3 separate regions of the Homo sapiens genome follow, and all the other regions are linked to region 1. Evidence: fine-mapped expression QTL. A gene starts in region 1. Each other region holds a variant in brackets. All regions are shown on one strand. Distances are between the middles of the regions. Region 1 holds the start of VSTM4 (V-set and transmembrane domain containing 4). Region 2 overlaps VSTM4 (V-set and transmembrane domain containing 4). Region 3 holds the start of FAM170B (family with sequence similarity 170 member B).

Evidence for each region. PIP is the estimated chance that this variant, and not a neighbour inherited with it, causes the effect.
Region 2: its variant is fine-mapped to the expression of VSTM4 in tibial nerve (GTEx, PIP 0.96).
Region 3: its variant is fine-mapped to the expression of VSTM4 in NK cells (Schmiedel 2018, PIP 0.95).

What each region holds. Positions count from the first base shown.
Region 1 is chr10:49,111,005-49,121,159 of GRCh38, forward strand. It overlaps VSTM4 (V-set and transmembrane domain containing 4), which reads right to left and starts at 4,518. Exons shown (of 8, transcript NM_001031746.5): 1 at 4,427-4,518. The coding sequence starts at 4,481. It overlaps LOC124902545 (a long non-coding RNA gene), which reads right to left. Exons shown (of 2, transcript XR_007062371.1): 2 at 9,112-10,104.
Region 2 is chr10:49,083,940-49,094,094 of GRCh38, forward strand. It overlaps VSTM4 (V-set and transmembrane domain containing 4), which reads right to left. Exons shown (of 8, transcript NM_001031746.5): 3 at 2,016-2,084. Among named protein-coding and RNA genes, the nearest start is that of VSTM4, 27 kb to the right of the region's middle. The variant G/T (reference allele first, on the strand shown) is at 5,828.
Region 3 is chr10:49,131,017-49,141,171 of GRCh38, forward strand. FAM170B (family with sequence similarity 170 member B) reads right to left here and starts at 3,005. Exons shown (of 2, transcript NM_001164484.2): 1 at 2,791-3,005; 2 at 138-1,336. The coding sequence starts at 2,902. The coding sequence ends at 597. FAM170B-AS1 (FAM170B antisense RNA 1) reads left to right here. Exons shown (of 6, transcript NR_038973.1): 2 at 4,640-5,065. The variant C/G (reference allele first, on the strand shown) is at 5,222.

The sequences.
Region 1 (10,155 bases):
AAGCTTTGCTGGAGGACACAAGCTATTCAGGTTGTGGGGTCCCTGTGCCTGTGACAAGCCTTCTCAGCAAAGCTGGGTGCCTTGAGTAACATTCTTCTCTTCCCCAGCCCTGCCTTAAACCCAGCAAAGGTGGCACATGTATCCAGGCAACTGTGAGATGGGGCAAAGCAGGAGGGAGGAGAGGGAATGCAGTTAGGGCACCCAGGGGCTGGCAAATGTGAGCCAGTTGGGTGTTTATTTCAATACTAAGAGAGAGGTAGTCCGTTATCTTCCCCCGCAGTCATCAGGACCATAGGGCTCAGCAGAGGGAACACCAATGGCAATCAGAGGACAGGACGAGGGGAAGCAGGTGCAGCAGTGTCCAGAGGCAGGAGACAGTGTACAGGGCCCCCGGGAGCCCAGGCTCTTCCCTCTGGATCTCAGTCTGAATGACAGTCCATGCATGCCCAGCTTGTCAGAGGGGCAGGACCTGATGGTGTCACTCGCCCCCTCCTCCACCAGGTAGATGATGGAGCAGCCAGGCAGGGCAGATCCTCCCTCTCCTGGCCTAGGAAGGATTGCCAAAGTCACTCAGGCCCGAAGAAGAAATTAATTTCTTGTTTTGTGACCCTGTGTTGCGGAGAATTGAGGTGGGAGGGAGACGCATCGTCCCCCTCCCCGTTGTACCTCTCCACTCACAGTTCCTGCTTCCTCCAGCTTAAGCCTCATGCAGCAGGCATGTTGTGAAGAAGAAAACAACATTCCTGACCTTGTGCAGTGGACAGTCCAGTGGGTAAGGCAGCCACTCATTGGGGAAAAGACATGGGAGAATATAACTACAGTGTCACATGCCACAGAGAAAAGTGCAGGGTTTAAGAAAATCATGGCAAGATCCTGATCTAGACTTCGGGGTCAGGGGAAGGGACTCTGGGGATGTGAGCTTGAGCTAAAGACTCACTTGCAGCTAATGAAATAAAGTTCAAGGCAGCAACAAGGAATGATTTCCAAGGAGGGAGCCCCACCTCTGCAAATGTTGTGAGGCAAGAGGGACCCTGTACAGGCTGGAAATGGAAAGGTCAGTTCATCCTGGTGAACTGTACCCCACTGTGGCCCAACAGCCACCCTTGCCAACACATGATCCTCAGAAGGCATTCCCTACCCCAGTCAGGTTCCCCAAGGCCACTTTTTGAAGGAGGAATATAACAAAACTGATAGGGAAGAGACTGATACAAACAGAGGGACAGGATTCCTGCTGCAGCAAATCCCAGTCTCCAACAAGCACATGCTCTGGGACTTGGTAGTCCTGGGCACCACATGGGCTAAGCACTGGATGTTTATGGTCCCAGGCCTTCTCTGGTAGTTGCAGAGAAACGATGAGACACAGAAGCAGTGGCTTGGTGGGGCTGGGTAGAGAGCCAGGGGCTGGCATCTGACAGAACCAGGCCGGAAACCTGATTCTGTTAGGTGTGAGCCTCCTGGAGTTTCAGTTTCCTCATCCGAAAAATGGGAAAAGGATGCCTTTCACAGTAAGCATAGGCTCCAATGCAAAAGCACCCTTAAAATACAGATAGAGTTTGCATGCCCTGAGACTGGGGAGGTGGGAGCAATAGAAAGTGACATGCACACTGTCCTGTGAGTACAGTGGGCTTCGTGGGCCCACGACCTGCAGGCACACAGGACCCCATGGTTGGAAGTCCTCACACCCCAACATGGTTTAATCTCTGCTGTTGCTATCTTGAAATTTTAATACATTTTAACAAGGAGGCCCACATTTTCATTTGACACTGGATCCCACAAGCGATGTAGCTGGTTATGTTTGTAGACGAATCTCAAATTCCTGTGGATAAAAGTTAAGGTGTCTAACCCCCTTGCTTATATTTGAATAATGTCATGAAAAGGACTAACACCACTCTGAAAACAGCCTAGGACACCGTTGTAGCTGAATAGAACAACCTACTCATTGTGAAGTGGGAGATGGCCACTTCCAGGTGAGGGAGTAAGGACAACTAACAGAACAAGGCAGCAGCCTCATCTGGGATGCAGAGGTGGGCACAGTCCCTCGGTTCTGAGCAGGCCAGGGATGTGCTCGTAGCTGTGTGCCTCCCACTTCCTCTCTGCCTGAAGAAACTGCACCTGCTCACTTCAGGGAGACCAGAGCCTCTAAGTTTATAAGGAATGCAAACTGTCAGTACTGATCAGCAGCAGTGAGCTTTCTTATTAAAAGAATAGTCTGAATTCATACAGCTAAATCTCTGAAAGAAATAGTTATATTACTTAACAGTCTTTGGCACCAGGAGCCAGTATTTACTGAGCACTAAGCAGAGGTGATGCCAGACCTAGCCCATGGACTGATTCACTCACATTAGCCTATCACCTGAAAATAGCTCCATCCAGGATAAAAATATCACCTTGCCCAATGATAGAGGCTAATACCTGCCGGGTACAAACTCTATGCCCTTTAGATGTATTTTCTCAATTTATCCTGATACTCTGTTTATTCCCATTTTATAGACAAGAGGACTGAGGTACAGAGAGGCTAAGCCCTTGTTCAAGCTCACATAGTAAGTGGCAGAGCTGGAATTCGAACCTAGGCCATCTTGCTTCAAAGACAGCTCAGCCACCTCTCAAGCCTACAGATTTGCTATCGTAAATATATTGTCTGTCAGTTTTCTTTCCTGTAAAATGAGACATGGGACCAGGTGACCACTAGGGTCCTGGTCAGTCCCAAAATGGAGAGGCAGAAAAGTACAGCAGTTAAGAAGCTGTACTTATGTATAAAATGGGTCTGCCAGCCCCTCCCAGCAGGATCGTGGTGAGGAGTCATGAATGAGGCACTTAGAAAAGTGGGTGGCACACAGTGAGTGTCCCACAAGCAGGAGCTCTTATCATCCTCCAGGGCTGACCATGGGCACAGCCAGGGCAGACTCTAAAGGCTCCTGAATTCCAGCTCTCAAGGCTCCCGAGGGCTCTGGAAATGTGAGAATGCCCTTGATCCCCAGCAAAAGACAATCTCTGGGACACCCACTCTGACAGCTCCTGCAATTAGAAGGTGGTCATGGAGCCTGGGAGAGGAAGGACCACTGGCTGCTGGCTACTCCACAGAGACCACGAGAACTGGCCCTGCCCACCAGTCCAAGGCAAACTTCTCATCATTTTTCCAGCCGAGACAGTGACAACTGGGAAAAGGTACATTTCCCGCAGCAAGGATTTCAGGTTCACTGGGAACCTGGCTGCACTCATAGCTGGGGGACAGTAGATGGATTTCTTCCCACTGTTATCCAAGTGCCTCCTCCTCAGACTGGGATCTATGGATTAATGCTGGCTCAAATGCCAGCTCTACACTTGGTAGCCAGATCACTCTTGGAAAATGACTTCTGAGCATCAGTTTCCTAATTTTCAAAACAATGGCAACACAGTTTAGTGGTTATTGACAGAGCCCAGAGCCAGGCTAACTGGGTTCAAATCCCAGCTCCACCACTTACAAGCCTACTGAATTAAGGCAAGTCCGTTCATGGGCCTGAGCCTCAGTTTCCTCATCTATAAAATAGGGATAATAATAGCACCTCCTTCAGAGGTTATTGGTGAGATTAACCAAGTTCATGTTTTTTTTTTTTAATACTTGGATATATAAACGTGTTGTAGTCATTATTACTTGGAAGTGTTGTAATTAAATGAGATAGGCCCAGATAGGCACCCAGGGAAAGTGACCATCGATACCTGTATTATTACTATTATTCCAGCCAGTACGGCCCCTGCTGCCCTGAGGCAGCCAGACAGAGTTCTGGGGAATAAAGAGGGAAAATTCTTAAGACACTTACAAGTGGGAGCAGTAAAACCCGAATGAAAGCCATTAGTGTGGACCAAGAAGTTGTCCTCAAAGCAGGGTGCTGGTGGAGAGGCGTCGCTGCATCCAGCCGTGGATGCCCCTCTCACCAGGCCTGGTCACCTCAAAAGGCCCACGATCAAGTCCCCGTTCCCCACCTCCTGGCCAAGGCAGATCCAGCCGCTCCTGACTTGTCTTCGGAGTAACTCTCCGAAGAGAGTGAAAGGGAAGTTGCTGCTCCGAGGAATCTGCCAAGAGCTGTGTGTCCTGACTGCCGTGGAAAAAAGGAAAGCGAACCACCAACTTGGGCTGCGCTCCTGCTGCATCTCCCCTCGGGGCCTGCCGCTGGGAAGATCTCGGCTGCTGCGAGAGTACCCAGCCCCAGGCGAGGTCGGGACGGGGACCGCGCTCACGGGAGGCGTCCTCTGAACCTTGGGGAGGCGCCGCTGCGCCCGCCAGACCCTCGGCGAGCCCACCGGAGCGCGCTGGCGACAGTGACAGCGCCGCCCCCCGCCCGCGCCCGGAGGTGGCAGGGCCTCCCCACCAGGCCCGGAGCCCCGGCCTCCCCGGCGCGGCCGCCCGGCCCCCACCCTTCCCGCTCCCGCCTGGCCCCGCCGCGCTTACCCGGAGCCGGAGCCCGCGCCAGCAGCGCGGCCGCCGCCAGTGCCAGCAGCCGCATCTCCCCGCCGCCGCCCGGCGCTGTGACGCGGGAGAGCGCCGCCGCCTGGCCCGGCCGCCGCCAGCCCGCCCCGGGCCCGCGCTCGCGCCCGCCCCCGGCCCGCCCCTTGGGCCGCCTGCCACGCGGGGCCGGGGCTGCTGGGTCCCGAGGCCCGCACCGGGCGCGGGAGCCGCCGCGCGATCGGTTCGCTCCAGGATCTGTGGCGTCTCCTTTCAACAGCCCCATTTCCCAGATGAGAAAACTGAGTTTCTGCAAGGTGATCGCTGGTGACTCACAGAACACACAGCTGCAGTGCGACCGGCGGTCCTCTGCCCACAGATGCACTTATTCCTAAGGGAAGGCGGGATCTGGGAGCCAGGGGGTGGGGGCGCGTCCAGGGAACCTCTGGCCTGAGACTCACCTGCTGGTCGTGGGCCTCCTGCGCTCACTCCACAGGACCCTCGGGAGCCAACAAGCAGCTGAGGGGGGAGAAGCCCCTTCTGCTGCCCTGAAATGGAGGGCGGGGTCCGAGGTGCTAACCCTTGGAAAACTGAGAGGGTCCACACAGACCAGCCCAGAATATGTGGAAACTATTAACAAAAGTGCCCATTTACAGTGCCTCAGCCAGGCCTGGGCTAAAGTGATTTTCCAGATGCTACTGAACCCCGCCGCGGTCAGGCCTGGGACAGTTCTGTAATCTCCATGTGCCTCAGTTTCCTGCACCTGTAAAATGGGGAAATGGGCCCACCCCTTCTGGGGTGTTTAGGAAGACCAAGTTACACCATTCCCATTAACGCATTGCCCCAGCACCCGATTCACGGGTGTCAGTGAACACTACTATTATTACTATACATAAGGAAGCAGAAGCAGCCACATGAAAGAGACCCATGTCACACAACCACAGAGCCCTGTCACTCTGAGCCAATGCCTGGTCTCTTTGCCACTGTTCTAAACTTAGGGTCTGAGCCTAACCCATCTCCAAGCAAGAAAAGCACATGTTAGGTCTATTCTGTGTGTGTCTATCAGGAGAGGTCTTTGTGGAGTTCCAGTGAGGGGTAGCAGCAGCTAGCAGGTGGGCCCTGGTTGGGAGTGGGTCCCTGTAGGAGGAGGAGGAGACAGGGCCCTCATCTCCTTCCCTCTAAGGGAGTGAGGAGGTGTGGGTGGCATGGAAAGAGGGTGCAGCCCACTAGTGTGAGCCCCAGGGCATTCCCCAGAGGGACCATCCTCTTCAGGCACCCCAGGCCAGTGGGTGCAAAGGCTCTGTGACATCTCTGAACCCCAGGCACTTCCAGAGGTCTCTGGACCCCATGGGATCCTCCAGCTAGGAGACTCATCTGTGGACCAGGGCCCTGCAGGGACTGGACTGACCATCAAGGCAGCCAGGCTGGAGAAAGCAGCCCCATCTATAATTTGGGTTGGTGGAAGGGCCTGAGGACCCGATAGTGAGTTGGCAACAAAGGTACTTGGCTATGATGCCAAGGACAAGAAGTGAGGACTAGAACTGGGGTCAGATGGACTCCTGCAGCCCAGGAATGCAAACTAGAACCAAGTGAGGCTTCCAGACCAGAGTTTGGAAACCAATTTTATACATGAGCAAACGAGCCTCACGTCCCATCCACATAATGTCCTAGGCCTCATTTTACAAATTAGTAAATTCAGGCTCAAAGAAGACCAGGGACCCGTACAAGGTTCTGTGGGGCACCAAATGTCTGAACTGGGAACTTGGACTCTGACTGCAGACTGTTGACTCAGCCCTGGAGCCTGGGGCAGTGTTTGGCAGACTGAGGGAGGATGTCTGAAGAGGAGCACTGGTTCTGAAAGTGGATCTGTGACCCGCTCTGGCTGGGCAACAACCTTGGGTCCTGGAGCAGCACAACCTCTCTGAATTTCATTTGTCAAGTGAAGGTGACACATGTAAAATGGCGTCTTGACATGGCTGTACTAAGAGCAGCTAGAGATGTGGCAGGGCCATTTGGTATCCTTGGTAACCTCCCACCTCAACCTGCTGGTCTCAATTTACTCTCCCAGTTGGTGAAAAGCAGAAGGGACCCCTTAGATGTGTCAGCCACCCTTGGAGGAGGCAACTCCTGCTTTGGTCGTTGTATATTGCTAAATATCCAACTCTCATTGCAAAACAGAGCAGAAATTCAGCCTGCCACCCTTGACTTGCTTCGTCTTTACCAAACTGGGGTTGTGCCAAAGATTTGAGGCTAGAAAGTGCTTTTCTTGTACTTTTCTGCTACAGGTAACATTGTGCTGATTTTACAGCTGTGTGCACTGCTGGTACTTTTCAGCTTCCCATATAATCTAACTGATCATCCTGGTAAAACCTTTGCTGCATGAACACAGGAACAAGGGAATATACTCAGCCCTCATGGGAGACAGAGCCAGTGACCCGGATAAGACTTGGCCTTTCAGCTCTTCTGGACTACATTGGCAAAGGCCTTCCAAATGGTTTTCTTAGCTCTGCTGCCTGCTCACTCATTCACAAGCTTAGGACCATTTGAAAATCCTTCACAGGCTTCTTTGTCCATACCTTGGCTCTATCAGGTCTTACTTTGTACTGAATTGGAAGAATAATACAATCCAATTCTATTTTTTGTTTACCTCATAAGAAGAGGGTGTTCAAACCATTCTAAAGTTGATCCAGATTCCTGTGGACACTAAGCTATATGGAGAGCCTACTCAACTAATCCTGTATTCTACCAGTTGCCACTGAAAGAATCTTAGAAATCCAGATTTTCTCCAACAAGTGCATTCTGCTATCACCTGGCAGGCCGGGGCTTTTCCTCTTTCATTATCCAATTGTTTGTTAGAACCTGGGTCAGAGATGGAAGAGTACAGCATGGTTTTGTAATGGACCTTGCACACAGCAAATATATCCCTAAACTAAGACCATCAAGCAAAACGAAACACCCCTCTTCTAAGGTGTTTAGCAGATTTCCAAGTGTTACTTTTTCAGTCTAGGTTTCTAAAAGTAATTTTGAATATTTGCTCCTCCCTATTGTTCACAGGCATTTTACAGCTAAAAGCAGTCAGCTACATGCTTGAATTGCCACTAAAAGAGAGTTCACTCTAGAGAAAAGCAGTTATCAGCTGTGACTGAGAGAGCAGGGAAAGGATAAGAAAGAGGAGAGATCGTGGTTACAGACAATGCAGCCATCCAATCAGAAAGATATGCCTAAGGCCCCTGGGGCAGAGTTTACATGAAACCTTCAGCACCGTCTTCTCCCTGCACAACTGGGGAAGGAGTATGGACTACACTGTTTTTCCCGAAATGTACAGAAATGTGAAGCTATAGGCCTGACAGGATGTCTAGATAGAAATAGCTTCTAACCAACCTCATTGGTGACCCCAATAGAGGGACGTGATTGTGAGCTGATGCCAAGGGCTCTGCAGGCCGGCTGGATGCAGCAACCTGGACCAGCTCCCAGGAAACGGAAAGACATGGCCCCAGATTCCTAGAAGGCTCCAGATGGAGGTGATTGAAATGAGGGAGGGACTAGGAACCAAACAGATGTCTATAAAACTGACCACAAAGAAAACATCTTAGAACTGACCACTGATGTATAAGACTAAAAATCTCAGTCTATGCCTTCTACTTTTATTGAACATTCAGTGAGCAAAAGACAGACTGAAGAACTGTTCAGAGTAAAAGAGGTTAAAAAGACTTATCAACTAAGTGAAACGTATGATCCTAGATCCTTGATGTGGGATCAGGAAAAAAATGCTAAAAAGGACATTATTGGTATGACTGGCAAATGGACTATATTGTATACTACATACATTTCCTGAGCATGATTATGAAAGAGAATGCCTTTACACTTGTTCTTAGGCGATCCACACTGAAGTATCTGGTGTTAATAGAATGACTGTAAATTACTCTTAAATGGTTCAGCAAAAATAACAAGTTTATCTATAATATGTATTGTATAATATATATATGGAAAGAGAGAGAGACACAGGGAGAGAGAGGCAAATGGGAAAGTCAGTAGATCTAGATAAAGAGCATATGGAATTCATTGTACTATTCTTGCAACTTCTGTAAGTTTTCATTTTTTTCGAAGTAAAACTTAAAACTAAAACTTGTTTATTACTTTTATGATATCTCAGTGTTTTTATATATATGCTGCTCATAGGCATCATGTAATTATTGATCAGTATCATACATATTACATTATTTCATCTATTGTAAGGTACTATTAATTATAAATTGCTTCCTCCCCATGTCAAAGATGTTACAGTAAATGCAGTTCTGATGTTTTGTGAATCCAAGCAGAAGACTTAGGCTTCAGGAAAATTCCCATTCTGCATTCTTAATAACTTAGAAATAAGGGAATAAGACCTCTGTAAGTCCTCTACAGAGACACAAAGACTCCCAGCTTGGAGCAAGTCTAGACTAAAAGTGTTAGAGAAGCAATGGATTGTAACCAAAGTCTAGTATGAGCTGGTCTGACACACGTGGCAGTTTGACTCCTGTGGAGGTAAAGGCATCAAGCTCTATCAGCATGCGACTCCTGTAAGGCTCTGACTCACTTCCCAGCCCTTGGCATGAGAGCCCATCACCCATCAGGAGAATCTGAATGGCATTCAGTTCCATATTCACAGAAGAGGCAAATCGGTTTCACAAACACCCATAGTCACATTAAACTAATGTTGTTAGTTTGAGTTTTATTGCTGTTTGCAATTGTGTTTAATTTACACATTTGGTTTTTGTTTTGCACTTGTAAAGCAACTATAAGCTTAGCTGTTTGTGTTTGTGCTGCTTTATTTCCACAGCAATAACTGAAGTCAAGGCAGGGTCCATAGGAATGTTTCTTGGCCTTTGAAAAGAATAGTAGTCAAGTTTGCCAAACATTGCTTTAGGGAATTCTCACTCTCTTTTCCCAAGACTGATGGCACCCCAGCTCAGTAGTCCTTGAGGGTGTGCTTGGAGGGACTGCAGTAAGTCCAGCAGCAGATGGTACATAAATCCTCAGGAGTCAGGAGTCATTTGTGAGCCTCTTCACAGGGTCCTTGTGCTTGGCCCGAGCTAGGTGTTAGCATGGCCCAGTGCAGAGCAGCAGGTAACACACACACACACACACACACACACACACACACACACACAAATGTATGCACACACATGCACACATGAGCTCTGGCTTCTGGTACCCAGGCTGTGGGCTGTAGACCTGACATTTTCATGAATCTCTTTACTCTGTCTTTTCTAAAGCTCAGCACATCCTCTTTGTCCCTGTGCCCAGCTCATTTTTCTGTGGGACCTTCTGGTCACAGGGAGGGAAGCATTTGAGGCTGAAAGTAGCACCACATCCCCACACGCCTGACTCTTTCTGCAAAACCTTCTGACATGTGCCCACATCACCCTCTGTGCTCAGGCCAGAGACCACCCTGTGTTCACCAAAAGTGAGTTGCTTGCTCCCAAATGTATTTATGCTATTACCAGCATTTACATCAACAAATGTGGACAGAGTGCTCACCACGTGCTTGTGCCCCTAAGGACCCCACCTGGGAAGCCTCCCTACCTGAAATGTGGACCTCCCTGAGCCTTTGTGGCTGCTGTCTTCCTGTCTCTGTCTCCTGCTCTTCAGAATCTATATTCATTTTTTCAGGTTGCCGTAATCCACAGGCCAGGTGGCTTAAACTATAAAAAACGTATTGTCTCACAGTTCTGTGACACAGTTGGAGATCAAGG
Region 2 (10,155 bases), 27 kb before region 1:
CTCCCTGGAAGATTCTGATGCATCTGATGATACATAAGGCTCCAGCTGTCACATCCCTAGTGATCTACCCTTGCCACAGCCAGGCCCTCTCCATATCCCAACCCATCACAGTGCCTGGTCACAGGGCAGCTCCAGAGACATGGGGCAAACATCAATGGGGTTGCCTCAATTTTACTAAATAGTAATGAGAAAGGTAAACCTTGCCCTTACTACTGCTTCACTCTATGAGAAGTAAAGTCATTTTCATTTCTTTGCCAATGCCAATGAGTAGGCATTCTCTTAATGAGAGGCTGAGTGGGAGAAATGGGGATTATTTTACTAGGAGGCAGTCATCAAATAAAGAAAAAGGCAACTACAAAAATGCAGAGAAACATCAGGAAATACAAAGAATCACTGTTGGATTCTCATGAGTGCAATCTCATAAACAAAATATTTATGACTACAAAACAAAACAATTAATCCTAGAGGCCTATGTGGGTGACACCTTATGGTCTGCAAACGATGTTCACAATAAAAGTTACATTTTCCTAAGACAGAATGTGTTTCAGTCTACTGCTTTATAACTAGGCATTGGAAGGGGTGAGCTTGAAAGCAAGTACTTGCTCCCTAAGGATGGCCCTCCTTCTGCCAGATCATACAATGGGTTAACAAAGGGTGACAGTAAGGCCTCAAGACATGTGCCTCTCCTTAGAGACTTTTGGCTAGATCATTCCTCATCAATAAATGTTGTACCATCACCAGACATAATCTTTACAAAGTTCCTGACCACCTTTGAACATTAATCAGCCTTTCACTGATCCAAAGCTCTGCCAGAGAACTCACAAAGTGCATTCTTTAATTGCTTATGATCATAATCCTCACCCACTTTATGATAATAATTTCTCCGAACTTTCCTTACTCCAAGACAGGGTTTTCCAACCTCAGCACTCTGGATACTTGGAGCCAAAATTCTTTGTCATGGGGACTATCCTGTGTATTGTAGGATTGGCATCATCCTTGGCCCCTGCCACTAGATGCCAGGAGTACCCCCAAAAGCTGTGACAACCAAAGATACATGCAGACATTGGCAACTGTACCCTGGAGTAGCAAAAGTCACCCACTGTTGAGAACCCCTGCCCTAAGGCCCAAACCTGAATGTGCATCAGAATTGCCTGGATGTCTTGTTAAACCCCGGATTTCTTGGGCACCATCCCTAGAATTTCTGATTCTATAAGCTAGGGCAGGGCACAGCCATGTGCATTTGGAACAAGCTCCCAGGTGATGCATATGCTGCCGGTCTGCAATCACACTTTGGGAACCACTGTTCCAAGGCCATGGTTCTCAGCCTGGCTGCATGCTGCAATCATCTGGGGAGCTTTTAACAACTTCCAATTAAATCAGAATCTCTAGAGATGTGGTCCAGGCATTCATGTTCTTAACATTCCATGAGTGATTCTAGCATGGGTTGAAAATTACTTGGTTAAGGATTGCAAACTGTTTCTAGAACCCCAAACTCCTTAAGCAACCTGAAATAAAATGTAGTCACAGTAGAGGTACTTATCATTTTTATATCACTTGAAGATTCGTCCCTAATATCACCTGGGAGTAGGAATTCTGGAGCAAAACAAAACAAACAAAAATTATGTGGACTGGTGCTTTAACTTCCACTCTTTCAAAACTGTGGGCTGATACTGTCAGGGATTTCCATCTCACTTTGAGTAAGTTTAGACCAAGAAAACAACTTAAAAACTAAGAAGTTAGGGTCCTTTCTTTATATTCTGTTTCCTTCCTATTGTCTAAAAGTGAGGCTGCATCTTATCGTGGGGTGGGGGAAAGGGGGAGGGATGGCATTAGGAGATATACCTAATGTAAATGACGAGTTAATGGGTGCAGCACACCAATGTGGCACATGCATATATATGTAACAAACCTGCACGTTGTGCACATGTACCCTAGAACTTAAAGTATAATTTAAAAAAAAAGAAAAAGAAAAAGCAACTATAGAGCAATAAAAAAAAGAAATATACAAGCTTTACCTTCAAAAAATGCCCAAGTCTCTTTTGTTTTCTCAAAGGATGACTCTTCAGAAGCTTTGAGGGAAATGACTGAAAGACAAAAAAGAAACAGCACAGTATGAAAAAATAATGCCACATGGTACACATGGCACTTACATTTACAAAGCAATTTCTACATTTGCAAAACCACATTTAGTTGTCAAAACTCACATGTTAGGGAGGGGTGCAAGGACTTTACCTAACAGTTGGGAAACAAGGGGCACAGGAGAGGTTGAAGTTAAGTCATCCATGTTTAAAAGCCAGTAAATGGCAAGCTCAGGATGCAGTTCAGTAAAAGCCCCACTTGCCCCATAGACTTGAAAAATAAGAAGTTCCCAGTGGCAAACCCAATAATTAATACATGATTTATTTTACCATTTTAGTGGGAATCTTTCTAAAATGTAGTGTACTTGTCCCAGTATTCCTGGATAGAGGAACCTGAAGTCATCAGATGACTCAAGGTTAGTGCTCTGAGCACCATTCTCCATGCAAGACAGACCCACAGAGCCACAGGCATCTAATTGTGAGAACATTTTGTCTTCTTTCAGGTAATGGTAGATCACTGAATTCATTTTGCCTGCTTTCAACAGGCAGGGAAACAGAATTGAGTTACACTGTGTGAAACTTTGAACATCACATTAAAGGAGTCTGGGCCCACGGAAAGTTTCCATGTACAGGGGTAACATCATCATAGGTAAAGATCTAGAAAACAGACTGATGAAAAATGTAAAATATCACGGAATGAGATTATTGTTCAATAGAACCTTCTGAAGTTATTGAAATGTTCTATATCTGCACTGTCCAATACAGCAGCCACTGGACACATGTGGCTACTGAATACTTTAAATGCAGCCAGTCTTACCAAATAACTGAATTTTTACTTTTATTTAAGTTTAATTAATTTACCCAGCTACATGTGCTCAGGGGTTACCACAACGAAGAGCTCTAGACAAGAGAATCTAGGACCAGAATTGAATGGAGATAGAATCAACAAAAGAGACAAGAAATACGGCAAAGATGGCCTAGAACTTAAATTCGATTTACTGCCTCTCCCACAAACTTTTGTATTATTATTGTCATGATCTCAATTCTGAATTTTCCTTCCTTTTGTCTCTCTGGGCCTTGCACTGGATATTTCCTATTGACATATCTTCCAAATCATTAATTTTCTCTTCATCTGTGTTTAACCTTCTGTACAACCCTTCTATTAAGTTCTTAATTGCATTTATTCTTTTTATTCAGTTCTATATTATTTGTTTAATTCTTTTGTAGATATCTCAGTTCTCTAATGAATTTCTCTAGGTTGTCATCTAATTCTGCGACCATATCAATCATATTATTTTAATGTCTATGCCTGATAAACTTTCATATTTGCACTTCCCATAGACTCCTTTCTGTTATCTGTTTTTGCTTTAGATCTTGTCTGTTGGAATGCCTGATAACTTTTTTCTAATTGAATGCCAGACATTGTATATAGAAAATCTTGGTGACTCTAGATAAAATTTTGGTTCCCTGATAGGAAGTTAGAGTAGGGGGATGGTCACTTTAATCCAATCAGGGTTTGAACTGTTGAGAGGCTTTCAGTTTTTATAGAATCCGCTCTATTTCTGGTTTGCCCTTACTCAGGGTTCATTCGGTCCTTCAGGGTTCCCCAGCAAAAATCCTGGGGTATTTACCACAACCTCCCAATTTTTATCTCACTGTTAGAACTGCCAAAAACTAACTCACCTCCTAAACATACTGGTTGTCACTTTCTCCATAGCTTCTCTCAACTAGCACTGCTTAAGTATGAGTGAGTTTCTTAGAGTTAAACGTCTCCAGCAATTGGGCTCACTTTGCTGCTTTTCTCTGTGATCTAACTACCTATCTAGTCCTTCAGATAACAATTAAGATAGTTGGATATATATGCACATATATATAATTATATATGTTATATATGTATATATATACATATGTAATATATATGTATATATACATATGTAATATATATGTGTATATATACATATGTAATATATATGTGTATATACACATGTAATATATGTATATATACATATATATGTAATTATATAATACAAATATATTTATGAAATGTAGATATGTGAATCAGAAAGCAGAAGTGCTGATAGACTTTATTTTCAGTTTTCCTAATTGTTCTCAGGAGGAGGGCTTTGCTCTGCTGAGAGGTTGCCTTGATCACAGAACTCCTTTGCCATTAGAACTTAAATTATTTAAAAAGTAGTGGCTATATCTTCTACCTCTGTATTCCTATCACTGGGCACATTGCCTGGCAGCTGATAGGTGCTTGGTAAAATATATGAATTATATATTTCTTTCTGACTTCCTCCCAAAGGAAGCAACCTGGACCTCCAGGAAGGAGCTCTTAGTGAATATCTGACCTTGCATGTGATCTAAGATACATCAGACAATTTGTCCATCACACCCAACCTCCTTGACCTGCTCAATACCCATAGCCCCTGTAATCTACTGACTGCCAGATTCCCCCTTCAAACACTTAAAATAAGAAACAGAGTGCATGTGGTTATTGTGAGCCCTGAGATTGAAAGAGCCAGTGGATTTTGTGGGTGGCCATGTTGGAAAACAAGTGAGCAGAATGGAGCGGAGCCTAGAACCTGCATAGCAGAGGGAAGATGAGAGGCCAAAGCTTGATGGCACTCTGGGCCCCACAAGGCCTGGCATGTTGTATTTACTCTCTTTGCATTCCAAGAGCTTTGCACCCTTAGACTGTGCCCACTTCTCTCCTGAAAAAGCTTGGCTGGATTTCCATGGCTTCAGCTAATCAAGCCTAGATAAGGATAAGAAGGTCCTGATGAAGACAACACGGAGATGAACAATACACATATATCTTCAAGGAGCTTGGTTTCCAGGAGGCCAAGGATACCCATCATGGTGTGGACCCTTACCACCCCACATGTGGTCCACGGGCCAGCAATGTCAGTGTCACCCGGGAGCTCCTCAGAAATGCAGAATGGCAGGCCCCATGCCGGATCTACTGAATCAGAATCTGCTTTCAAGCCCAAATCCCCTGGGTGAAATGTATGCCTTTTAAAATTTGGCAAACACATGCTCACAGGGTTGAAAGACTCAATTGCCACTTGCTAGTTTTATGTCCTTGGATAAGTCACTTAATTTTCCTGTGCCTTATTTTACCCATTTGTAAAATGGGGATGATGAGAAATGCCCATGTCAGAGTAGATGCAGGGGTTAAAGGGGTTCATGTGTGTGAAGTGCTCAGAACAGTGCCTGAGACCTACTGAGCCCATATCCACACTAGCTGTCTAAGTACAGGGACTTTCACTTGTTTTATTCACTGCTCTAACCTCCACCCCCGCCAACCTCAGAATGGCCCTTTGTTGTCAGTCCTTTGCCTCAGGGGGTGACTCTTCAATCTCTACACCTTGAATGAGCTGCTGCCATTCTAACCAACAGGTGCCTTCGGGTCATTTTTTATGCAACTTTCAGGGTCAGAAATTGTGGGTCCTTGATTTAATCCAATTACAGTTCCCTTTCCCTTATTTAGGATAGAAAGCAACAAGCTCTCCCTAATCTATTTATGGACACATGTGTTGAAAGAGCTAACAAACTGGGATTCTAAACTAACCCTATGCAAGGAATCACTGGATGCTCCTCACTCCCCCGCAGTGCAGATATTTCACAGGACGGTGCAGCAACTTTGGCATCTGATTATTAGAAACACCAGTCCTAATCTTACTTGTTCCTACAAGAAAGAAAAATTTTTACATGGACCCTGCCAGATCTTCGGGAATTTTCCCAAG[G/T]TTCTCCCATAAGTATCTTGTTGCAGCTGCTAATCCTGTGCTATCTCAAAGTGAATTTGATATATTGTCAAGCCAGGGGTCTGAGTCCACAGACTATGAGGAAACAGAGCTGTGGGATGCAGCCAGGCCAACAGCAAGGGCTGTGTAGTGGACAATCAGCAGGTCTCCTGACTCCACAAATACTCTGCCCTCCTCAGCACAGCTGTGAGCAGCTAATATAAATTCACCTTGGTCAACCTTCAAGTGTGGAGTGGAAGAGGCCCCAGCAGGGTAGATGGGCTTGAAGAGGATGGAATGCTTTGAGAAAAAATTTGGCAAGACTAAGGAACAAGTGGCAAATGTTCCAACCACAGATTACTAATGTTGCTCAAAGACTTGTGGAAATAAAATGCAAATCTCCTGATGGAAGAGCATTTTTGTAACAGTTTCCAATGAGTTCAGCAATCAGAAGGCTGGAGCCTTAAGCAAGAGTCAATCAATCTATCCCATTCTGCCGTACTGGGCTCACCTTGGGATCCAGCTGGACTTCCAGACAATTGGAAAGAAGATGACAACAGCCTCTTGTACCAATTTGCTGACTCTTCCTATGCACCAGCTCAAAGGAATGGAGGTCCTGCCCTCCTGACAGCTGCTCATGATTAAAGGAGTGCCCAGCCCAATCCCCCAAAGAGGAAAGCAAGTGCATGACAGTCAGCTGGTGAGCCAGACAATGGTCCTATAGGGTCCTGATGGTGGACTCTGCTGCTCTGTGCTCAGGTTTTCATGATAGGGAGGAGAAATGAGACTTCCATCCCTTCCCAGGAAGGTGCAGGACTGGAATGATGCTGCCCCTCTCTGCCCTCTCATCTGCATTCACCACCTCCCTCACCCCTGGTGGACAAGGAAAAGCTCCTGATCCAGGTGAGCTTCTGACCACAGCCCCCCTCTGGGTGATAGGAATGTGGTAAAGAACTTTTTCCAAGTAGACTCTGTCCTGCCCTGTGCTCTGAGACTGGTCTCCCAGCAAATAGCTGGCATGGGGGCAAATGCTGTGGGGCCCCTTGGGACAGTCTCATCACCCCAGCTGCTGGGAGTGACACCAGCCCTGCCTCTCACGGAGCCCCACCTGTGACCACTCCTGCACACACTCCTCTACCATCCGTCCTGTGTCCAGGGAGACCATGACAAGGGCAGTGCAAGGACCCTGACCTCCTGCTCCCACAGTGCACAGGCATGTAGTCCCCATGCTGGGGTGGGGGGTGGGGAAAGGCGAACAGGCAGGACAACTGTTCAGGGAAGTAGAAGGAAGCCCAATTTGATCTCAGTGCCAAGCCACCTATCTCAGTACAGCTGTTATCGGAACTAAAGTGGGTTTTTATATCTGATGGGTCAGGTCTCACAGTGGAGGGAGGGGTGATGAGTGCTCAGAAGCTAAATTGTCAGCTGACCTACTGACTGCTTTGTCATTGCCTTGGGACCCTAGCACCCAATGGGCAGAGCCCATGAGAGTTTCCGGGGAGGCAGTGGCCCAGATGACAGAGCTACAGGCCACTCTGGGGCCTCCCCAGGAGCACAGAATAGGATGAAATCTAATAAGGGACAAGTTGTGAAATCCATCACGTCACTGCCCCTCTGTTGAAGAAAGTGGCCACAGGATCAAACAGTCAGGAAGAATGCAGCCCAGAGGTACTGAGACAAACCGATTCTATCAACTGCATGTCTAGAGGAAGCAGGCTGGAAAGAAAGAGCCTCAGTCAAGTCCCCTTTGATGGGACCTGGGGGGAAACCATCACTCAGAGAGGTGTGAAAACCGAGAGCCCTAATTCCTGCCTTGGAAAGAACACCCTGCCAACTTCCCTGGGGAGGGCATGTTTCACAGGTGAGTTCACACCAAGACCCTGTGACAATGCCCTCTGGGTGCCAAGGGGCCTCTGGTTCTTTCGGGGTCCCCCATTCACCAAGGACGCTGACATGCTTTGTCTAGACTGACCTTACTCACCCACGGAAGTGATGGCCAAAAATTCCGAGAGGTCCTGGGAAGGCTCCATTTTTCCTGAAATTCTCTCCCACTGGCGCCCCTAATTCCTTTAACAAAGAATCTTACAATTAACAAAGCTTAAATTGCAACTCTAGGCTATATCCAAAGTCAGGTGCACATTTCTGACACGGAAAGCCTTCCAGAACGCAGGATTCGATGGAGAGGAAAGTGGTGGGGCCCTGGCGGGCCAAGAGGAAGAACGAGGCAGGAGGGAGCAGGAGCCAGGATGCAGGGAAGGCAGGCAGCTGGGCTCAGGAGACATGCCTTCCCTTTCCGTGCCTACCCTGGCCAGGGTAGCTGAAGCCTTCTCCCAGACTCTACAGATCTTGTCCTTAGCAGGTGCTGCCTTCCTTAGTGCTCTAAAGCCATATTTTTAAACTTTACTGTGCAGAAGAATCAACTGGGCTCTTATTAAAACGAAGACTCCCAGGCATTGCCCCTGAGTTTCTGAGAGGGTTTGGGACTCTGCCTGAAGAGGGAGTTCACCTCTCAGGAAATTCTGAGGCTCCAGGCCCGAGGACCCTACTTGGAGAGTCTCTGTCATGTGCACTCCTAGAAGAAAGACTGAGTACAAGGAGATGTGGGAGAGGAGAGTCCTGCTGTGAGAAACCAGGCCCTGGGCCTCAGTGTCCTGTCCAATCCAGGAGAGGGTTTAGAACTCAAAACTAAACCAATGCCTCTTCTATTTAATCTAGGGAAAACAAGAGTAATAAGGATAAGGAGTGATCCTGCCACAGAAGTGTTATCTACAAAGTGATACGGGAGTGCTGGGAAGAGAAGAGTATGGTCCCTTTGAACAATATGGAAAGGGGAAGGGGCGTGCTGGGTAGAGGAGGGCGTGGTCCCTGGCTAGGGCTCCACCTCCACGGACCTAGGTGAGGACAGGCATTTCCTGCCCAAATATTGCATTTCCCAAGACCACTCTGGCCTGCCACGCCCCCATCCTGGGCCTATAAAAAGTTGAGAACCTAGCAAGGCAGAGACAGACGCAGTCAGACATCGAGAGGAGCACGTCACCGGAAGAAGACGCAAGCGGCTTGGTAGTCCAGAGAACATGGAGCAGATTATGCCAGCAGAAGAGCACACAGACAGGCACTGGTATGTAGGCAGGACATCGACCAGTGGGACCAGGCACCAGGCAGAGTTTGGCCGAGGCAGTCAGAAGAGAGCTGGGGCCACAGAGCAGCCCAACTCCAGGGGAAAACCGTCTCCCTTCTACCTCCCCCATTGACTGGGAGCTACTTGTACTCAATAAAACTTGGAGAATAAGATATTCTCCAAGCGCACATGTGATCTGATTCTTCCAGTACACCAAGGCACGAACCCGGGATACAGAAAGCCCTCTGTCCTTGAGACTAGGTGGAGGGTCTTAATTGAGCTACAGGCAGCCTATAGTCGGCAAAATAAGAGAGCACCCCATAACACATGCCCACTGGGGCTTCAGGAGTTATAAACATTCACCCCTGGACACTGCCGTGGGGTCGGAGCCCCACAGCTCCTGCCCATCTGTATGCTTCCCTAAAGGTTTGAGCAGCAGGGCACCAAAGAAGCCAGCCACACCCCTATCGCATGCACTGGTAGGGGGACAAGGGAACTTTTCCCGTTTCAAAAGGACCCTGAAAGAGCACCTTTTAATAGCATGTCTCAATGTAGAAAATGATGTGCAGAACACAGCTTTCAAGAAACAATGATTTTTAAAAGAGCAGAACATGTGTAAGGATGGACGTGTCTTCCCAAGGAGTCAACTGCCTGTCTTGGAAACTGGAGACAATTTGAATTGAAGCCTTCCTCCAGTGGTGATCTAATGTTTCACACCCTTCCTCTCTCTATGGAATGTGTGGCTTTAAAATCCATCACTGTGCACCAGACCATGCCTTATTCTACCTTGTTCATTATCTGTGTCTGTTTTCTTCACTTTCTAGAATCCTTCTTGGCCCATAGTTCAAGTCATAGTTACTCTTTTTTTTTTTTTTTTTTTTTTTGAGATGGAGTCTTGCTTCGTCGCCCAGGCTGGAGTGCAGTGGCAAGATCTAGGTTCGCTGCAAGCTCCTCTTCCCGGGTTCACGCCGTCCTCCTGCCTCAGCCTCCCAAGTAGCTGGGACCACAGGTGCCTGCCATAACGCCCAGCTAATTTTTTGTATTTTTAGTAGAGATGGGGTTTCACCATGTTAGCCAGGATAGTCTTGATCTCCTGACCTCGCGATCCACCCACCTCGGCCTCCCAAAGTGCTGGGATTACAGGCGTTAGCCACGGTGCCCGGCCGTCATAGTTACTCTTAATGAATGAATGAAATGAACGTGATACAGTGGG
Region 3 (10,155 bases), 20 kb after region 1:
ACATCCCCAGCCTCCTGCTCTACCTTGAGAAGCTGCCTGTCTCCAGGTGTTTCTGCTAGTTTGTAACCTATGGAAATGGCAACTTCCCATGTGTCCAATATGACAGCATGGTTCACTCAGTTAGTCACTGCATTCAATTTTGTGTTATTCAAGTTTAATCCCAATAACATAAGACATAGAACTAGGGCATATGACAGATTTGTAATAGTGAAAAAAATAGGGCTGGAGAGTAATTTGCAGTTGGCTGTCCTGTGACCCACATATACTTAGCAAGTGTGGACCTGCCTGATCCACCGGCAAAAATAGAAATCCCTCTGGCCATGCGTTTGTGGGTTTCAGATGTTGTGCCTGCCATCAGAAACACTCAAAGCCCTCTCGTTTGGGTTTTGAAATGGACTCTGGTGGAGATGCTGTGCCTAGGGCAGGAAGGGGGTTCCTTCCAGTCTCCTGGCCCTCCTTGCTCTACACTCCATGCCTTTCCTTCCCCCTGACCCTGGTCCTCTCTCCCTGCCCTAGTGGCTCTGATACTGCTGGCTGGGGAAGGAGCAGTCCCAGGCCCTGGAGGTGAGGGCAGGGTTGGGTATCTCCCCTCTGGCTCACTGCTTCTCCTGCTGCTGTGCTGAGAGCACCTCACCCTGGGGCCGGGAACATTCGCTGTTGTCTGAAGGACTCTGCTCCTCCTCCAGCTGTTGGTCATGTGCTTGGCCCTGAGCCCGCCTTCTCTCCAGCATCTCCTCAAAAAAGATCTGACAGCTGAAGCCCTCCCGGATGCCATGCTGGGCGTGCTCCAGCAGAGCGTCCAGGGAGGGCAAGACCCTGCAGCAGGCCACGCAGCGCACCCCGTAGTTGGTGGTGACCAGCCAGTCCGGCGGCTCCCGCAGCTCCTGCAGGCAGCACTCCAGCAGGTCTATGTCCTCGGGCTCGGGGCTGCAGTTGCTCTTGCAGGCTTCCAGGTCCCAGCGCATATCGGTGTTGGAAGCCATTTCGAAGGAGGAGCCGTTCCACCTCTGCCTCTTGATGAACTGGGCTTCATGGATGCGGGGCTTCCTGGTGACCGGCTCGAAGCCGGCCTCCGTCTCCCAGGCCACAGCCACACCCCGCACAGTCTGCACGTGCGTGTAGAAGGCACACACACTCTGCGGAGCAGCATTGTCCTCATCGCACATGCAGGAGCAGCACGACTGGTACTGGGAGTAGGACTGGTACTCGGAGGACTCTGAGGATGGGGAGCTGCTCCAGTCCCGCATCCCCCGGTCCCTGGCAGCGAAGTAGAGGCCCTCCTCCCGGGGAATGGCAGGCCCCGGCCGTGGGGACGACCCTTCTCTCTGTATAGTCCCTGAGAAGCAGAAGGACATTGTCATCAGTGCCCTTTAAGGGATCAATGCCACATCTACCTTCAGGAGCCGCAGACTCTGAAAGGGTACAGGCTCTGGGAGCTCTTGAGCAAACACCGCCCCCTCTGCCCATTTCCTGAAAAAATGAAGATGGTGATAATGCCTGCTTCATAGGGTGTGGTAATGATTGAATAATGTATGAATGCAATCACCAAATCCTTGACTCAACTGAGAAAGACCATTAAATGGTGAATAACAGAGTTATATACACATTAGGGATATGATGATAAGGATCAAATAATGTATTAGAGTAATCACCAAGCAAAAGACCATCAACTGGGGAATAGGTAAGCTGACTGAGGTGTATCCATATGATGCAACCTGTTAAATCCATGAACCACTGAGACGTGCAACAATACGGATGAATCCTGAATGCATTATGCTAAATAAAAGAAGCCAATTAAAAAGGCCATGTAGTCATAAGAGAATGTGAACAAAAAAAAAAAAGAGTCCATGTCGTATATGATTTTATTCAGATGACATTCTAGAAAAGGCAAATTTTTAGCAACAGAGAACAGCTCAGTGGTTGCCCAGAGCTGGGGACGGGGTGAGAGGAGACTGGTCATAATAAGGCACAAGGGGACTTTTAGGGGTTTTGAAAAATCTTCTTTATCATGACTGTGTTGGTGGTTCCACAAATGTACATGTGTCAAACTTCTTTAAATTGTGCATTTAAAATTGCTGAAGTCTGTGTGCATAAAAGACACCTCAGTAAAGCCCATTTAAAAAACAACACATGCAAAGTGCCTTGGCCAAGCCACCCAGACCCACCATCCTCTTCAACATTTGTGACCTGTCTTCACCTTCCCGAGGGGGCATCTCACTATCTCCTTCAACACTTACTGTGTCCCTCTTGCCATGGAAGTGCTTGCCAAGTTTAATATTCAAAACAACCCTAAGAAATTATATTGTTAGGATTCCCATTCAACAGAGTAGGAAAGAGAGGCATGGAGTTTGAATGAGTGGTGGAGCCATTGGGCCCCCAGAGCTGGTGTGACACTTAGGTGCTGCCCACAGACACGTCCCCGCGGTCTTCAAATTGATGTTCTAGATTAACTTTCATCATTTTGTTATAAAGGAATTTTTTATTTCACTGCTGAAATCACAGGATGGACGTGTTGTTTTCTCAAATACACATTAAAATAAATACATAATTATAAACATTTTACATTTTCATTCTCATATCCCCTGAAAACACCTTATATACTCATAACAGCCTCAGTCACACCAAGTGTCCCATAAATATCAATTTCCTTTCCCTCCACATCTATGTTTATGGTCAACACAACCATTTGGTAACAGTATCAGGAGGCAACCTGGCACTGTCCCTTCCCATCAGGGCTTCCTTCCCAGGGAGCACAGCTGGCTGACCTTCCAGGCCTTTCTTTTCACCTACCTGGCCAGAACACTTCCACACTCTCCTCAGTGGACTCAGGGCTGGTCAAGCTGAGGGTGGTCCCATCGGTGGGTGACTGTTCTCCCCTGTGATCTGTGAAGTAGCATTTCATGATTTGAAATGAGTGCCCAGGGTGTCGGTGCTCCAGCTGTTCAGTGAGAGTTGGCTGGGGCTGTACTGAAGGCCTCCAGCTGGCCCCAGCCAGAGTGGACACTGAGCTCCCCATGGTCGCTAAGATCCTAGCTCTACTGTGTGACCTCATCGATGGCACTGGTCTGTTCTGTGACCCATGGCGAGGGCAGAGGCTGAGGCTGGATACCAGGAGAGGCTTCCCAACATGTTCTCATTTCCCCATGGGAACTCCTTTTCTGTCTTGTGTATTATCATGGACACACAGAAACACAAAACACACATACTCTTAACTCCTTAGACACACATAAAAACACAAACACATAAACACAGAGACACTTGTATACACTTAAGCATGCATGGAACCGCTGTCTTAGTCCATCTGTGTGGCTTACAAAGGGATACCTGAGGTTGGGTAATTTATAAAAGAAAGAAGTGTATTGGGCTCATGTTTCTGCAGCCTGTACACAAAGCATAGTGCCAGCATCTGCTTCTGGTGAGGGCCTTAGGAAGCTTCCATTCTCAGCAAATGGGGAAGGGGAGCAGGTGTGTTTAGATCACATGGGTAAGAGAGGAAGGAAGAAAGAGTGGAGGAAGTGACAGGCTCTTTTCAACACTCAGTTCTCACAGAACTAAGAGTGAGAACTCTTTACCACGAGGGTGGCACTGAGCCCTTCATGAGGGATTTGTCCCCGTCACCCAAACACCTCCCTCTACGCCCACCTCTCACATTGGATATCAAATTTCAACATGAGATTTGAAGGGGACACATGTCCATACTATGTCACTCACACACAAAGAAACGCATACATGATCACTCAGACACACATATACGCTGGAACACATATGGCACACACAGTAACATAAACATATGTACGTGTGTTCACATAGACACATAACATGCTCACACATACAAATTCACACACATATTTACTTAACCACACACACATACATGCACACAAATTCATGCCAGATTAATTAACCATACATAGGCTCACATACATACAGTCAGCAGCCAACATAAAATGACCCTGCTTCCCAGTGTGGAAAATCTCTCCTTCTCTCCCCCATCTTACGTCCCCACGCTGACCCTGTTTAGCTCCTCAACCCTCCACAACCCCACCCCACCCCTCCCCTCCCCTCTCCTCTACTCACTCCCTTGCTCAGTTCCTGTGACTCCAGACACTTCACTGCTCCCGGACATGCCCGGCATCCTCCCCTCACGGGCTCTGGGCTCTCGCACTTGCTCTTCCTTGTGCCTGTTCCAGGCTTTCCCCTAGGTTCCTGTGTGGCTCTCTCTCCTTCCGGTCTCCTCTGAAACATCACCTGGTCAGAGGAGCCTGCCTGGCACCCCCAGGAAAAGAGCTTTCTTTGGCCCTACAACTCTCTGTCACCTTACCCTGCTTTATTTTTCCATGATAGCATTTACCACCCTAGGCTGTATATAATGTCTGTGTGTGTATCTCATGGGTTTACCTGTATCTGTCTTCTCCTCCTTAGATGTAAGCTTAGGCAGGTAGGGACTTCCTTCGTTCCATCCACCTCATTATATCTCTAGTGTCTAGATCAATGTTTTACATATTAACAAGCACTCAGGAAATAATGAGTAAATAGCTGATGAACACGTTGGGCTGAAAAAGGCGTTACTCCCTCTGGGAGCTGCCTCCTCTGTGCTCCCTGGATCTCTGCAGTTCCAGGGTGGTTGGTTCTCTCCCACTAGGACTCTGGGAGTTGCCTCTTCCTTCTCCATTTGCACAAACCACGCTTCAGCCTCAATCAGCCTGATAAAATGTTCACCTGCCATCTCTCTGCTCTGCAACACGCTGGCACTTCACTCATTTCCTCCAACAAGCTTCTTACCACTTCCCTCTGTGGCTAATCTCTTCCCACCCTTGGTCAGTCTCATCAACTCTATTCCTTTGAATCCCAAATACTAAACAGTTCAGATAGGTGATGGATTGAAAATAATCCCAATATTCCACAAGCAACATCAACATCCCCCACACACCCAGCACCGAGGAATACCCTCCTCTCTAGAATGTGAGGCCACTGTGTGGAGGAAGACACCACGGTGCTCTACTGAGCCATGAAAGTCACGCCTGACCTAAACAGAAGACTACGTCCCCTGGCTAAAAGAGGAAATAGTGTAAGTGCACCCTTTTTTAACAAATAAATACAAAGACTTGCCTTACAAAAACAAGAGGGGGCAGCCAGCACAGAAAATAAGTAGGTCATTGGGGGATGGAAGGCAGTTCAGAGAGAGATGACATCATGGAGAATTGTTAAGCGGCAAAGTAAACAG[C/G]AAGTCTGGGAGGAAAGGAGACTCAGCCAACAAATTATGCTGAAAAATTATATTCGCTATTTTTTTGAATCAACTTTGGTCTCACTTCATGTAAAACAATTAAGAATATTTTCATAATGGTTCAGAGCTTACGCTTTAATGAAAAATGTGTAGAAAGAAAATATGTTAACATTTGTAATTACAAGGTGCTTTTTCTCAACTTAAACAATATTAGTCTTCGCAAGCATTGAGAAACTTTGTCATCTTTTCTAATTTCACTGCTTTAAAAAACTCACTGTTTCAATTTGCATTCCTCTGCTTTTCAGTGGAACTGGAAAAAAAAGCAAATGAGCAAGCAGTTTCCAGGGGAAGAAATGCAGAGGGATGATAAATATATGAGAAGATGTTGAGTCCTACTGTAATAAGGGAGCTACAACTTAAAAATGTGTAGTATACAGTATAGCACTTTTCACCCATGAGATAGGTAAGAGTTAAAAAGATGGACAATACCCAGTGCTGGTGAGGACGTAAGGAAATGAACACTTTTATTCTCTGTTGGAACAGTGTACCTTAACTTTCTCAAAAAGTTTGGTGGTACCCATTAGAATTAAAAGTGGGCAGGCACTTCCTAAGCAGTTTACTATCATCTCTTTCCTAGGGAACAGCCACATTACATGATATGTGCATAAAATAGCACCTAGAGAAATATTTATTGCAGCATTGTGTATAATAGAAATAAAGACAGGAGACTTTCCTAAGATCCATCAAAATAAAGAAACTACAACATAATCAAACTGTGGAATACTACACCACGATAAAAAGAAAGAGATCTATACATACTGATAAGTGAATTCATGTTAAATGAAAACACAAGATACAAGGAATAGATAGATGACCCCACCTATGTAAAAATCAAACATACTCCCTCAAAAGCACTGACCAAATTCTATATTGTCTATGTATCAAAAGGCACAGAGGAGATCTGAAAATAATCACACCCAAGAGAAAACAGTGTTGACCTCAAGAAAGAGGAAAAAGATTAGGTGGGGCTGTGTGAGACCAAATTTTCCAAAGATGGCCAAACCAATCTATATCACAACCCACATGCTCTTCTGATAACACGACAGCGTCCTTCTTCCTGAACTGGGGTGGATTTTGTAACTGCCTCAATCAACAGAATGCACAGGAGTGATGTTTTGTGACTGTCAGTGCCAGATCATAAAAGATGTGACTTCCTCCTGGTTCTGTCTCCCTTCTCCTTTGGACTCAGCCACTATGTTGTGAGGAAGCCTAGGCCACATGGAGAGGCCACATAGATGTGTTCCAGGCAGCAGCCCCAGCAAAGGTCTCAATCAACCACCATATGTGTGAGTGAAGGAACCTTCAGATAATTTTGCTTCCCAGACTTCAAGTCTTTCAGCTGGGGTCCAAGACATCACAAGGCAGAGACAAGCCCTCCTGGAATTCCCCACCCACCGTGAGCATAAGAAAACTGTGAGCATAAGAAAAGGTGTTTTACACACTAGTTTCTGGGGCAATTTGTTACAGGGCATGGTAATTCAATGGACTTTGATTTTCCCTTGTAATATTTAAATATGTTCTAGTGAGCTAGTTCGTTAACCAGCATCTGTGCTCTGTGCTTCTTCCTGGCCCAGTCAGGGAAACCTGGGGGCCAGGTGAGCCCTGTGGTTTTCCCAGGACAACTTGGGAGGATGGTTCCCATTCTTACCCCATAGGAAACAACTTACTAGATTGCAATGTTTATATACGGTTGCTTTTGTAAAGGCAAAAGCTTTACAATTTGGGATCCAAACGATGTTTTCCAAAGTCCCTTGAGTCGGGTCTTTCTTTACCCAGAATCTATATACGTTCTTCCTAATCCTCTCAAAAATTATACACTGTGAACCCTCCTTAGAGATAGGGAGCTTGGCACTTCAGAGGGGTTTGATGAACCTTGGGTGGGAAAGCTGGGAGAGAAGTGGCTTCCATCTCACGCCTGGGGGCAGGGCTGCATGGCCAGGTTGCTCTGATGTTTCCTATGGGCTACTTCCCTGGGGCTAGTTTGGAGTGAAGCCCCTCAGATGGTGAGCGATTGTCCTCCTCACTCACATGGCCTCTGGCTGTTTCCGTCTATGGGAAGAGCCTCTGCCCCAGCCGCTCTGCTTGCTCCATGCAGATGTTCAGCTGAGACCACCCACAAAGGGCTCCCACCCATCCCCCTGCCACTCTCCAGTGGGTTTTCCAGCCCTGCCAGGAACCTCTGCGCCTCACTGCTGCAGCCAGCAGGGCTGGTGTGCAAACCCCCAAAAGGACCAACGCAGCACTTTCTTGGAGCTCTGACGCCTGGCCAGCTCATTGCACACATTGCATGCGAGCCCTAAACCTCATCCAAGAGGCCTGGAATATTTTCTACTCTTAACTTTTCTTCCAAAACCTACTCTTCCCAGCCTCTGTTTTTCCCAGCTGAGGAGGCTAACAGGAAATAAAGTGGCCACAGCCACAGCAGGAAGCAGAGAGGCCATGTCTCTCTTCACTTCTAATTCCAGAGCTTGGCTTGCGCCCCAATCTGGGCTGTGGGGAGAATCACATCATTCATTCTGGGGTCCATGGGAGTCCAGAAATAATCTGTCCATTTGGCCAAGGGGTGGTGCTTCGGTCTTAATCATGGCATTTCTGTGGCTAGAGCCACTGTGTAAAGGTGTTGCAAACGGGCAATGATCCTGCTCTTCTCTCCACACCGAAAGTGGGGCCCCTCTAAGGGGGCAGGTGCCTTGCCACCCTCCCAAAGTTATCCTATTATCAGATTTAACACCCGAGGGCAGGGGAGAAGTGGGAAGCTGCCCGGATGCTGCGCAGCAGGTTTGCATGGAGTGGGGTTGGTGGTGTTCAGAGTGGGAATTTTTCCCAGTGAAGGTCAGTCCTCAGGGCTTAGGGATGACCTCATTGTGTGCTTGGGCTGCAGAGAAAGTGCCAAAAGCTATCAGACAAACTGAGAAGTGGGGTAGGGAAGTACTATCTTTTGGGTTTATTTTCTGTTGCTTCTTGTAACTATTTTAAAAGAAGTGAGTCAGTGGACCACAGAAGGCTCAGCTCAGCCACAGGGAAATGTAATCCGGAGGACTCTTCTTCAGCTCCCCCAAGCAAATAGGAAAGGGAGTTTTGCTTTTGTTTTTCTTTAGACATAATAACAGGCTGCTCCTTTGGTGGGTTTGTTTGGCGCTGTCTCGGGTTTTGGCCTTCACCTCAGAGTGCCCACACAAATAGCCAAGGCCTTCCCTCTCATCAGGGAACCAGGAGGGGGCTGGTCCCTGGGGCTGGGTCCTCAGTCATGGCATGGCTGTGCTCCAGGCCCCAGAGCCCCACCTGGCCTGGAGCCTGCTGCATTTTGCTCAGCTCTGGCCCAGCAGGGCTGTGAATGTTCAACAAGGTTGTGGGATGCAGAAGTGTCTTCTTCCAACACACGCTTCCTTGGAAGGGCAGCTTCAGCTGAGAGGAAAGACTCCTTGCTGGATGCCATGCACGTGACCCAGGATCCCAGGATCCCACAGGATCCCAGCACTGGCCACATCCTGTGTATGTTCTTGGAGAGCCATGGTGGGAGCTCTAGGGAAAGGGGTCTTCTCTCTCTCTATGTCCAAAATGGGCTGGCCACAGGCCACGCTGGACACAGCCCTCAGGAGCCATTCCTGTCTTCTACTGGGCCAGCTTTCCTGCAGCATGGCACAGCTCTGACTTGGAGGGTGAGACTCGGGGACTCAGAGGCCGACAGTGAGTCACCTTGATGTCTAAGTGTGTGAGGGTGAGAACCCAGGACCCAGAGGCTGACAGTGAGTCACCTTGACGTCAAAGTGTGCTGTGCTTGATTCCATGTTCCTTTTAGCCCACATCCAAGACTAATGGATGTCTGTGGCTGGAAAGCAGAAAATATGTTCACAGAAAACTCCTGAGCAGAGCTGGGATGACTTATTTTAATCCCCACAATTGGAATAGCTATTTCAAAGGCATGGCTGAAGATGCTTCTTCCCAGCCTGTCCTGCAGAGAGATGATGCAGTTGTTTAATGGATAATCCCAGTGTCCTGAGGAGGCCAGCAACTGTCCCTTCTCCCGCACAGCACCCAAAGTCTTGAATGGATCCCTGGCCCTCCTGGAATAAAGTATGCATAGGGTGGAGAACTTCTGGGAAGGTTGGATCAGGCCATGTCAAATTCCCACAGGAAAATTCCCAAGAAAGGCCCCAGGCCAAGGCTTAGCAGCCAGAGGGGAAGCAGTCCATTCAGTCATGCCCCCCTGCAGTGCAGTGAGACTGGCTGGACATTGGCTGGGACATTGGTTTCCAACACCCCATCTGCCATCCCCACCACACCTCCCCACCCCCAACATTACAAACACACACACACACACACACCACACCCCAGGCCTGTGAGATTTGCTCTAGTTCTGTGAGCTTTGCTCTAATATGGAGGACTGGTTCAAACAATCCTCCACTGCTCCAAGTGCCAGCATGTTCACGTGACTATCTCACAGAGGCAATAACTTTAGTGGGGCAGAACTGAGATCTGGCACATCCACAGCACAACAGGGAGTGGCTAGAGATGGCCGAGCAGTGTGGCTCCCACCTGACCAGCAAGCACCATGACCATCCATGTCTGGGGAGGAAAGAGACCCGCCAGCCATAGTGTGAAACAGGCAGTCAGCTGGGGCTCCCTTCTAAGGAAAAGGCAGCTCTCCTCAGAAGCCGTCCCAAATCCACCCTGGCTCTCAGGAATTCAACAAATATGACAAAGATGAGAAGGGAGAAAGTATGAATTATTTTTTGCAAGACAAGACTATAAGCATCTGCATATTTAAATTTTGATTCATGTCTTTGAAACAATTTCCTGTTTTGAAGATAACTCAGCAAATACATTCTTACTTTATTGGAAACAGCATTTATTAAGCTATTTATGTAGCACAA